3 linked regions of the Homo sapiens genome follow. The protein of the gene in region 2 purifies or fractionates together with the protein of the main gene of each other region. This does not show direct contact. Each region holds a gene or a part of one and is shown on either strand. Other genes may lie near its edges.

What was found.
Region 1: the proteins of ZNF610 (region 2) and TRIM37 purify together in Homo sapiens (affinity purification with mass spectrometry; 2 studies listed by BioGRID and IntAct, with this or other methods). This does not show direct contact.
Region 3: the proteins of ZNF610 (region 2) and HERC1 purify together in Homo sapiens (affinity purification with mass spectrometry; 2 studies listed by BioGRID and IntAct, with this or other methods). This does not show direct contact.

What each region holds. Positions count from the first base shown.
Region 1 is NC_000017.11:59,051,338-59,054,991, forward strand, and holds part of TRIM37 (E3 ubiquitin-protein ligase TRIM37), read right to left. Parts: intron 1-3,654. UniProt on the Homo sapiens protein: E3 ubiquitin-protein ligase required to prevent centriole reduplication. Probably acts by ubiquitinating positive regulators of centriole reduplication.
Region 2 is NC_000019.10:52,356,688-52,360,341, reverse strand, and holds part of ZNF610 (zinc finger protein 610), read right to left. Parts: intron 1-3,654. UniProt on the Homo sapiens protein: May be involved in transcriptional regulation.
Region 3 is NC_000015.10:63,634,911-63,638,564, reverse strand, and holds part of HERC1 (probable E3 ubiquitin-protein ligase HERC1), read left to right. Parts: intron 1-28; coding exon 29-154; intron 155-921; coding exon 922-1,060; intron 1,061-2,422; coding exon 2,423-2,604; intron 2,605-3,654. UniProt on the Homo sapiens protein: Involved in membrane trafficking via some guanine nucleotide exchange factor (GEF) activity and its ability to bind clathrin. Acts as a GEF for Arf and Rab, by exchanging bound GDP for free GTP.

The sequences.
Region 1 (3,654 bases), on a different chromosome or scaffold from region 2:
ATTGTGCCACATTAAAAAAAAAATTCAAATAGTAAAACATTATCAGTCTAGCACTGAATTCTGCAATTTGGGTTAACTTGATTATAAGGCCAAAATTCACATAAACTTAGAGCTGCTAGTATTTGTTGTTTATAGATGTAGTCCACAGATTATGACACAAGGTTCTGAAAAGCCAGTTGTCCTCAAACTACCTTTCTAAAGAAATAACATTGTACATTGTAGTTAAGCTTCCCAAACTAACCTACTCAGGCATATTTATTATAATAATGTAACTAAAATACAATGATGATCATGAGTTGGGAAGAAGAGAGCCATATACTATGCAGTTTCCTCCTATAAGGAGGAAGATAACTCTTATCCCTTTCTTCCCTAAATGAGGCCCCAGCAAAATACAAAGTTTTTTTTTTTTTTGAGACGGAGTCTCGCTCTGTCGCCCAGGCTGGAGTGCAGTGGCGGGATCTCGGCTCACTGCAAGCTCCACCTCCCGGGTTCACGCCATTCTCCTGCCTCAGCCTCCCAAGTAGCTGGGACTACAGGCGCCCGCCACTACGCCCGGCTAATTTTTTGTAGCAAAATACAAAGTTTTAAGTGCTGCTCTTTATATTTCTCTATTCCATCTCACGTTCCCGTATTTCCTGCCCCTCAGAAAAAAAATCACTTCCTGGCTCAACCACCCAGGATTGCTTTACTATCCCCCAAGGAGTTACATGCTCTAAATAAACTATATCCTGAACCCTTCAAGATAGCAATCAAAACTGCCCTTATTACAATATGGCATTATTTCAGCTTAGGTTAGGAAAAAAAGTACTGCACCTACATAAAATCGTATTAATATATAAATGACAGAATCTTAATCTATCCAGAGTTGTTTTAATTAAAAAAAAAAAAAAAACTATTACTAAAGCAAACAAACCTCTACCTTTGTTACATAGCCTAACGTGACTATATTTAAGGTGAAAAAATTGCAGTGCATGTGTGAAGGTGTTTTTGAAGAAAGGAAAAACCACAAGGCAAGACTAATTTGGACATCTACATCTCTCTCATTCCTTCCAGCCCTTTTACCCGGCTACACAATGTTAGCTGTTCATTTTTTTCTAGGATTTTACACCTTATTGTAAGAACCTACTGACCATTTAACAGTTATCTGGCAGTAGATATCTAGTTTTAGTGAAGAATACTAATGCAAGAAAGGACAGAACATAAACACTGACTATAAAACAACAGTCCTATTTAATGTTGGGATAGTCTTTATAGGTCAGAAGTTTTTGGGCATCATTATATGTTATAACTGGATGATCAAAATGAGAACTTGAGTATTAAAAAAAGAGAGAGATTGGCCGGGCACAGTGGCTCACACCTGTAATCTTAGCACTTTGGGAGGCCGAGGTGGGCAGATCACCTAAGGTCAGGAGTTCGAGACCAGCGTGGCCAACATGGTGAAACCCCGTCTCTACTAAAAGTACAAAAATTAGCCGGGTATGGTGGCGGGCGCCTGTAATCCCAGCTACTCAGGAGGCTGAGGCAGGAGAATCGCTTGAATCTGGGAGGCAAAGGTGGCAGTGAGCCGAGATCGCACCACTGCACTCCAGCCTGGGCAACAGAGCGAAACTCTGTCTCAAAAAATCAAATCAAATCAAATCAAATCAAATCAAATCAAATCAAATCAAGAGATTAAATTACGTTCTGAACGGAACTGAGTAGAGATGATTCACTCAACTGAGCAGAGACGATTCACAGTCTAGGAAGTACCCACTGGTAAGACATTAAAGTAAGACCGTCTAAACACTATTATTTTCTTTGAATGATTTAAACCACTGGTTAACTCTGCACATTAGTTCTAATATTTTGCCATTAAAACAAAACCAAGCAGCAGGTAAAATTTCTTAACTTTCTGTTTTAATGAAAGAATGAAACATACATTCATAGTTATAGAAAAGCCTTAAATAACTTTCTAATAAATACATACAAAATTCCACCAGAATCTTGAAATAAAAGGTTTAAAGTTTGAGCAATGTCTCATTAATAGGATAATGTGAAGCCCCCTATCCACAAACTTCATAGCAATTTACTTACGGTGCTACTATAGCATTATTTTATAATAAGAGAGTAGTAAATTCTGTTTTTATCTGCCAATTTCATCTTGAGTTCCCTGTGGACAAAAACCATGTCTATATTTTTCTTATTAGCAACTCAGTGTCAGGCATATGGTATAGACTCAATGTTGCTTAAAAAAAATGATGTCATAACAGGAATTTGTTTCTGTACTAATAAGTAACGCTAATAAGGATGAAATCAAGGCTATAAGAAAATGGGTCTTTTATAGGTTGGTAAAATTGATGTTTGAATAATTTTGTAATTCTCTCTATGGCTGAAGCATGAAATAGCAATAAATTATTTCTCTTGGTGAATAGTTAAACCCCAAAAGTCTGAAAAGCTATACGAAGAAAACTAAAATAATCCCTCCCCTCAAAAAACATGATTCCAGGCACCGTGGCATGCACCTGTAATCCTACCTACTTGGGAAGTTGAGACAGGAGGATCACTTGAGCCCGAGAATTCTAGACTAGACTGGGCAATATAGCAAGACACTGACTCTAAACAAAACAAAACAATAACAAAAACATATCTTTTTCCCTACACTGAAAATCATATCCCTTGTTAAACTTCTTTATACTTCCAGAAAAGCTACGGAAAACACATAAGAGTAAATGCTGATATGATAGCAACTCATCTGTCCAGTATGCTCAAGAACAAAGAGCTCCGAATAAGGGAAATTCAGGAGTACATTAAATCACTCTCAAGAAAAAAATGTTTAAAATTGTTGTGATGAGAACTTTTTAAACTGTTAAATACTCTGAAACTTCTCAGTTCAGAACATATTTTAATCTTTTTTAAATATTCAAGTTCTTATTTTGATCATCAAATTATAACATCATGTAATGATACCCAAAAACCTTTTTTTGTTTGTTTTTTGTTTTTTTAAGATGGAGTTTCACTCTTGTCGCCCAGGCTGGAGTGCACTGGTGAAATCTCGGCTCACTGCAACATCTGCCTCCCGGACTCAAGCGATTCAACTGCCTCAGCTTCCCAAGTAGCTGGGATTACAAGTGCCTGCCACCATGCCCAGCTAATTTTTGTATTTTTAGTAGAGACAGGGTTTCACCATGTTGCCCAGGCTGATCTTGAACTCCTGACCTCAGGTGATCCACCCACCTCAGCCTCCCAAAGTGCTGGGATTACAGGCGTGAGCCACGGCACCCAGCCAATGCCCAAAAACTTCTGACCTGTAAAGACTACCCCACGTTAAACAGGGCTGTTGTTTTTATTTACTTTATTATTATTTTTGAGATAGGGTCTTGCTATGTCGCCCAGGCTGGGGTGCAGTGGCATAATCTCGGTTCACTGCAACCTCCACCTGCCGGATTCAAGCGATTCTCCTGCCTTGGCCTCCTGAGTAGCTGGGATTACAGGCGCGTGCCACCACAGCCCGGCTAATTTTTGTATTTTTAGTAGAGATAGGATTTCACCATATTGGCCAGGCTGCTCTCAAACTCCTGAGCCCAAGTGATCTGCCTGCCTCAGCCTCCCAAAGTGCTGGGATTACAGGCGTGAGCCACCACACCTGGCTAAATAGGGCTGTTGTTTGAGTCAGTA
Region 2 (3,654 bases):
TCATAACTCCCATAGCCTTTGCTACAGTCTTCTGTTATAGTGTTGGGTACGGTAGGCCCCAGGGCAGAACTCAGGAAACAGAACCTCTCCAACCTTTTCCTGCCCTCCATTCACCTGCCTCAAGGCAGAACTCTAATCTCCCATCTTTCTGATTATAGGTCTTAAGACCTCCCGAGAGAGGGTCCTGCTTTATGTCTGGGGGAAAGAATGCTGACATAATAAGGTTTCTATAAAAATCTAAGAGGACTGCATTTAGAGAGCTTCCAGATGGCTGAACACATGGAGCTTCCTGGATGCTGGTCGCAGGGAGGGCAGAGAAGCTCCACACCCCTTCCCCCATACCTTGCCCTACAGGTCTCTTCATCTGTATCCTTTTCAATAGCCTTTATAATAAACTGGCAAATGTAAGTAAGTGTTTCTGTGAGTTCTGTGAGACAATCCAGAAACTTTATCGAGCCCAAAGAGGGGCCACAGAAACCACAAATGGAAGCTAGTTGGTCAGAAGTTCTAGAGGCCCAGACTCGTAACTGGTGGGAAATGGGGGAAGCCTTTGACACTGAGCCCTCAACCCGTGGGATCTGACACTATCTCCAGGTATAGTGTCAGAACTGAACTGTAGGAAACCCAGCTCTTGTCCGTTGCTTGATGTGTGGGAAAAAACTCCTATACCGTCGGTCACGGAAGTCTTATTCTGTCTTGACAGATTGTTGTGGTGGCGTGAGAGCAGAGGAAAAACATGGTTTGAGAGTTTTTCTTAAAACACTCTCAGATATCAAAATCTGTGGATGCCTGAGTTCCTTACTGCAGGCCTTCCATACCTGTGGTTTCTATATCTGCAGATTCAACTAACCATGGATTGAAAATACAGTCTGCCCTACGTATCCATGGGATCCATATGTGCAGATTCAATGACCTGTGGATTTCTGATCTGCAATTTTGTGGAATCTGTAGATGCAAAACCTCCAAATATGGAGGGAATAAGCTTAACAAGGACGGGAAAAATTTGTACACAGAAATCTACAAAAAATTGCTGAAACAAAGTAGAGAAGACACACACAAATGCAAAAACAGCCCATGTTTATGGATTGTAAGTCTTAAGGTTAAGATGTCAATAGCCAAAGAGATCTACAGATTCAGTGAACTCTTTAGCAAAATCCCAAGGAAGTTTTCTTCATAAATAAACTCATCCTAAAATTAATATGAAATCACACATGTGCCTCAATAGCAAAACAAACTTGAAAGAAAGAAAGCTGGAGGTGTTACACTGCATGATTACAAAACTTATTACTAAGCTACCTTCATCAAAATAGAACTGTACTGCCATGAAGGCAGACATATAAGCCAATGGACTAGAACAGACAGGCCAGAAACAAACCCTCAAATATTTGGTCAAATGATGTTCAATAAGGCTGCCAAGACCATGTAACGAGAGAGGACAGTCTCTTTATCAAATAGTGCTGAGGAAACTGGATATCCACAAGAAAGGAATGAAGTTGAACTCTTATTACACCGTATGCAAAAATTATCTGAAAGCCAATTCATGACCTAAAACTAAGACCTAAAACCATAAAACTCCTAGAAAAAATCAGGTGGAAAGCTTCATAACGTTGGATTCAATAATGCTTCCCTGGATAGAACACTGATAACACAAGAAAGAAGGTAAAAATACATAAAATGTACTACCACAAGACCTACAACTACTGTGGATGGAAGAAAACAATTACCAGAGTGAAAAGGAAACCTACCATATGTGAGAAAATATTTTCAAATCATACCTCTGATAAGATTTTATATATCTAAAATACATAAAACTCCTACAAATCAGAAAACCAGTAACCTGATTAACAAATAGAAAAAGGAGGCCAGGCGCAGTGGCTTACGCCTATAATCCCAGCACTTTTGGAGGCTGAGGTGGGTGGATCACGAGGTCAGGAGATCGAGACCATCCTGGTGAACATGGTAAAACCTCATCTCTACTAAAAACACAAAAATTAGCTGGGCATGGTGGCGCATGCCTGTAGTTGTAGCTACTCAGGAGGCTGAGGCAGGAGAATCGCTTGAACCCGGGAGGCAGAGGTTGCAGTGAGCCAAGATCGCGCCACCGCACTCCAGCCCGGCGACAGAGTGGGACTCCGTCTCAAAAAAAGAAAGCAAAAGAAGCATTCTTTGTTCCTAAAAAAATATGGAAATTTCTTTATATGCTACAAAATGGATGAACCTGAAAGACACTCTGGTAAGTGAAATAAGCCAGTCATACAAAGACAAAAAGACAAATAATGAAGTTATATCATGTAACTTCATTATATAATAAAGCTTCTATAAAAACCCAAAAGGACTGGGTTCAGAGAGCTTCTGGACAGCTGAACACCCCGAGGCTGACAGGAAGGTGAGCAGGAACTCACACACATGCCAGGAGGGTGGCACAAGCCAACTCCAGGACACAGAAGCTCCTGTGCTGGGGACCCTTCCAGACCTGACCCTATGTTCTTTCCATCTGTTAATTTATCCTTCTCTATCTATTTGGAATAAGGTCTTGCTCTGTGTCAGCCAGGCTGCAGTGCAGTGGCGCGATCATAGCTCACTGCAGCCTTAAACTCCTGGGCTCGAGCAGTCCTCTTGAGTAGCTGGGACTACAAGGTGTGTACTACCATGCCTGGCTAATTTTTTAAATTTTTTTTTTTTTTTTTTTTTTTTTTTGAGATGGAGGCTCGCTCTATCTCCCAGGCTGGAGTGCAGTGGCACCATCTCCGCTCACTGCAAGCTCCGCCTCCCGGGTTCAGGCCATTCTCCGGGCTCAGCCTCCCAAGTAGCTGGGACTACAGGCGTCTGCAACCACACCCGGCTAATTTTTTGTATTTTTAGTAAAGACGGGGTTTCACCATGTTAGCCAGGATGATCTCGATCTCCTGACCTCGTGATCCGCCCGCCTGGGCCTCCCAAAGTGCTGGGATTACAGGCGTGAGCCACTGCGCCCGGCCAATTTTTTAATTTTTTGTAGAGATAACGTCTCATTATGTTGCTGGTCTCAAACTCCTGGGATCAAGTAATGCGCCCACCTCAGCCTCCAAAAATTCTTGGGTTACAGATATGAGGTACCATGCCGGGCCTGGAGCCTTTAAAATACGCTGTGGAATAAACCCTGTAAATGTTAAGTATGTATTACCATGAGATCTGTGAACCACTCTAGCAAATTAATCAAACCCAAAGAGGGAGCCATGGGAACCCCAACTTTTGAAGCCAGTTGGTCGAAAGTTCCAGAGGCCTGGACTTATGACCCGTGTCTGAAAGGGGGCAGTATTGGAGACTGAGCCCTCAACCTGTGGCATGTGACACGCTCTCCAGGTACACAGCATCAGAATAGAATTCAAGGGCCCCCAGCAAGTAGCCACTGCAGAACTGATTGCTTATTGGTGGAAGTAAAACTCACATTTGGTGACATAAGTTGTCTGTGTTTATTGTTGCGTGGTGCAAGACCAGACAGAGGAAGATACGGTTTGAGTTTTGCCCCTCAGTCTTAAATAACAAATTACGGCAAGTCAGTGTAATGGTATTTCTGAGATTAAGATGGCAACAATTTTAAAACAGCATATTCTTAAGATATAAAAAATTTCCATATTATACACTGTAATACATTTAATTGGCAAAAGTGTTGTT
Region 3 (3,654 bases), on a different chromosome or scaffold from region 2:
TAATTTTGAGATGATTGTGGTTTTCTAGGACTGGCACCTGGGAGGTAAATGTGATGTCTACTTATGGGGTGCTGGTAGGCATGGACAGCTGGCAGAAGCTGGAAGAAATGTAATGGTACCTGCAGCAGCTCCCTCATTCTCACAGGCCCAACAGGTAACTAACAGGATAAAAAATAGAAAAGAAACATGGGAACTGAAAATTCTAATTCTTTTGCTTGTCTTATTGTGGGATAAAGCTTGTCCATTTCATAATCTATTATGAGGAATCATTAAAGAAAGTCATGATATATAGCTTTCAAATAAAAACTTGGTGTGGTTTTTATCAGACTTAAGAAGTTAACAAATTTCTAAATTTTTCTTTCAAGTTTAATGAACTAACATCATGATGTGTTAGGCCTGCCCAGTATGTATTTCTAGCAGTTTAGATACTCCTAATTAGTGATTTTCTCTTTGGGGCTAAAAACTTCCTAGGATCTTTAGCCAGATTTTATCGACCACTCCCCTTTTCTAATAATCCTGGTACGATATAGCGCCAAACCCTTCTCGAGGCCTCTGCTTTCTCTTTTGCTCTTCTTTACCTCAGCTAGTCCAGATTGCATGACTCATTCTTATGTACGAGTTTCTGCTTCTTTCTAGCCCAGTCTTTAATGTTTCCCCATCACCCCTTCCTTTTTCTTTCATCCATTTTGTTGTTCTAAACTATTTTAAATGGATGAATCTCATACATCTCTTGGTTAAATAAGCAGTTTTATAGTCATCAAGGAGTTACGGGACTGCATAGTTATATCAACTCTTCCCTTTCAGTAAAAGGATAAAACAATTATAAAAGCATTCTATGTATACGTGGAATCATTTCAAGTGCTTGCATGTTAAAGCAATATAATAAAGAATAAAATATTTAATTCTGTGTTTTTATACTAGGTCATTTGTGGTCAGAATTGTACCTTTGTCATCCAGGCCAATGGCACAGTGTTGGCTTGTGGGGAAGGAAGTTATGGCAGATTAGGACAAGGAAATTCAGATGACCTTCATGTGCTGACAGTTATTTCAGCCTTACAAGGTAAAATTGTCCTTAATAAAAAGATGGTTAGAACCTAAGGCCTAATGTAGGTTTGGTCGTACAAACCTTTGCCCTTCTCAAACCTTTGCTAGATAAAATCATATCAGGTTTTCACTTACATTTAAATCCTTATTTAGGCATGTGTGCAGCCTTAATTTCCATATTTTAAGCTATATTGCAGGTTACTTATAGCAATGCTAGAATTCAGTGAAATATAAATAACACTTTTTGAGACCCACTGAAGATTGTAAACAAATGCTTAAAAATTGCAAAAGTGTAAGTAGGCAGATGTTAATAGCAGTAGCAATCATGCATGTATTTCATTAAAATTAAAAATCAGTTTATATGGAAATCTGCAAATGTGCTAAAGACTTTAAAGGACATCTTCATCAGAGTTCTTTGTGACTTGGAGAGAGAACACCTTTGGAGAAACCACTGTACAAGCCCCCGGCTTGCTCATTAACTGAACTCATAATGACTCTGAAGCCTACAAAGAGAGCACCGACGGTTTTTTTAGGTAAAAGCATACAAGTAACTATGAGTTCAAAACAAGTTCCTAGAAGCTCAGGTTCTTTTCATTGTGATCTGAGTGTGAAGAGCACAGCAGTAAAGATGAGAATGTGTGCTGGGTTCCTATGGGTTCTACTGGTCCTTGGCTCTGGGACATTGCACAAGCTTCGAGACCTCTTTGTGACTCAGTTTTCCCACTTGTAAAAATGGGATGTTAGTATCTGTTTCATAGGTGCTATGTGAAAGTAGAAAATGAGATAATCCATGTAAAGCATTTATAGGAGTGGCTAGAGCATAGCCAGTCATTAATGACTGTAACTATTGCTGTCATCCTCGTTTTCCTTGTCATCACCATTATTTTAGGTGACTATTCGCAGTTTTGCTAGGTTATGGCTACAAATTCAATTTAAAACTAAAGAAATTAGGCCGGTTACTGTGGCTCATGCCTGTAAACCCAGCGCTTTGGGAGGCCGAGGTGGGCGGATCACTTGAGGTCAGGAGTTCATGACCAGCCTGGCCAGCATGGTAAAACCCTGTCTCTGTTAAAAATACAAAAATTAGCCAGATATGGTGGCACATGCCTGTAATCCCAGCTACTCAGGAGGCTGAGGCAAGAGAATCACTTGAACCGGGGAGGTGGAGGTTGCAGTGAGCCGAGATCACACCACTGCACTCCAGCCTGGATGACAGAGTGAGACTCCATCTAAAAAAAAAAAAAAAACTAATGAAATTATTCTTATTTTCATAGTACCAATTCGGTGGTTTTTGATTGAGGGTATTCAGTAGCAGCTGCAAGTAAAGAGGAGAGTTTTAACATCCAGTGACTCCTGTTGGGTTTCTGTTCTGTTCCAGGCTTTGTGGTGACCCAGCTGGTGACTTCCTGTGGTTCTGATGGGCACTCTATGGCCCTAACTGAAAGTGGTGAGGTCTTTAGCTGGGGAGATGGTGACTATGGTAAACTTGGCCATGGGAACAGCGACAGGCAGCGGCGGCCCAGGCAGATCGAGGCCTTACAAGGAGAAGAAGTGGTGCAGGTCAGGCAGGAAATGGATAAGTTTGCCTTTCATTGTAAATATACTAGTTGTTGAATAGGTTTCTTAAAATTAGGTAACAGAAAATATAGTAAAAATATATTACACAGTAATTATAAGAGATCCATTGGTTTTGGATGTTCAGATTCATTCTTGAGCTTGTCAGAAGTTTGAATAGGCTTTGGTGTTAGTATTGGTCTTGTTAGTATTGGTTAGAATGGTCTTTTTCGTGAGCCAGCTGGTTGGCCCAGACTAGGGTGCTGCACGCCCTTGGAAGGAATATTGTGTGGTTTAACTTCTGCCACACAGTTCTTAATACACAGATAAAAGGAAAACTTTGCTTTTAACCTATCATTTATGTTACAAAAGCTAAGTTAACATGCATTTTCTGGAAAATAGTGTTCTAAAATCATATTGTAAGATTGTATAGCACCTTATAGTTTACAAACAATTTCCCCATTTATTATCTCATTTAGTCTAGGTCATGTGTACACAGCTGAAGAGTAGCAGTAGTTACTCCAGGGTATGCTGTTCAGCTTGGGCTTCCTGAGGCTGTTGAGACAGATCAGACTTGGGAGAGCAGGAGAGCAACTTGGGCAGATAAATGTACCAGTTGGCCAGATGCAGTGGCTTATGCCTGTAATCCTAACACTTTGGGAGGCCAAGGCAAGAGGATTGCTTGAGGCCAGGAGTTTGAGACCAGCCTAGACAACATAGCAAGACCCTGTCTCTACAAAAAATAGAAATAAATAGCCAGGTGTGGTAGCACATGCCTGTAGTCCCAGCTACTTGGGAGGCTGAGGTGGGAGGATTGCTTGAGCCCAGGAGTTTGGGGCTGCAGTGAGCTGTGATCACACCACTGCACTCCAGCCTAGGTGACAGAGCAAGACACTGTCTCTTTAAAATTTAAAAAAAAATTAAAAAAAAAAATTTTTAAAAGCATTGGTCTTTGAAGATCCAGTTTTCAGTGAAGTTTATGTAAAGTTTATTGCTATATTAATACCAAAAATGGCAGATTTACTTTTTTCTTAGTTTCCCTTCTTAAAAATTTTC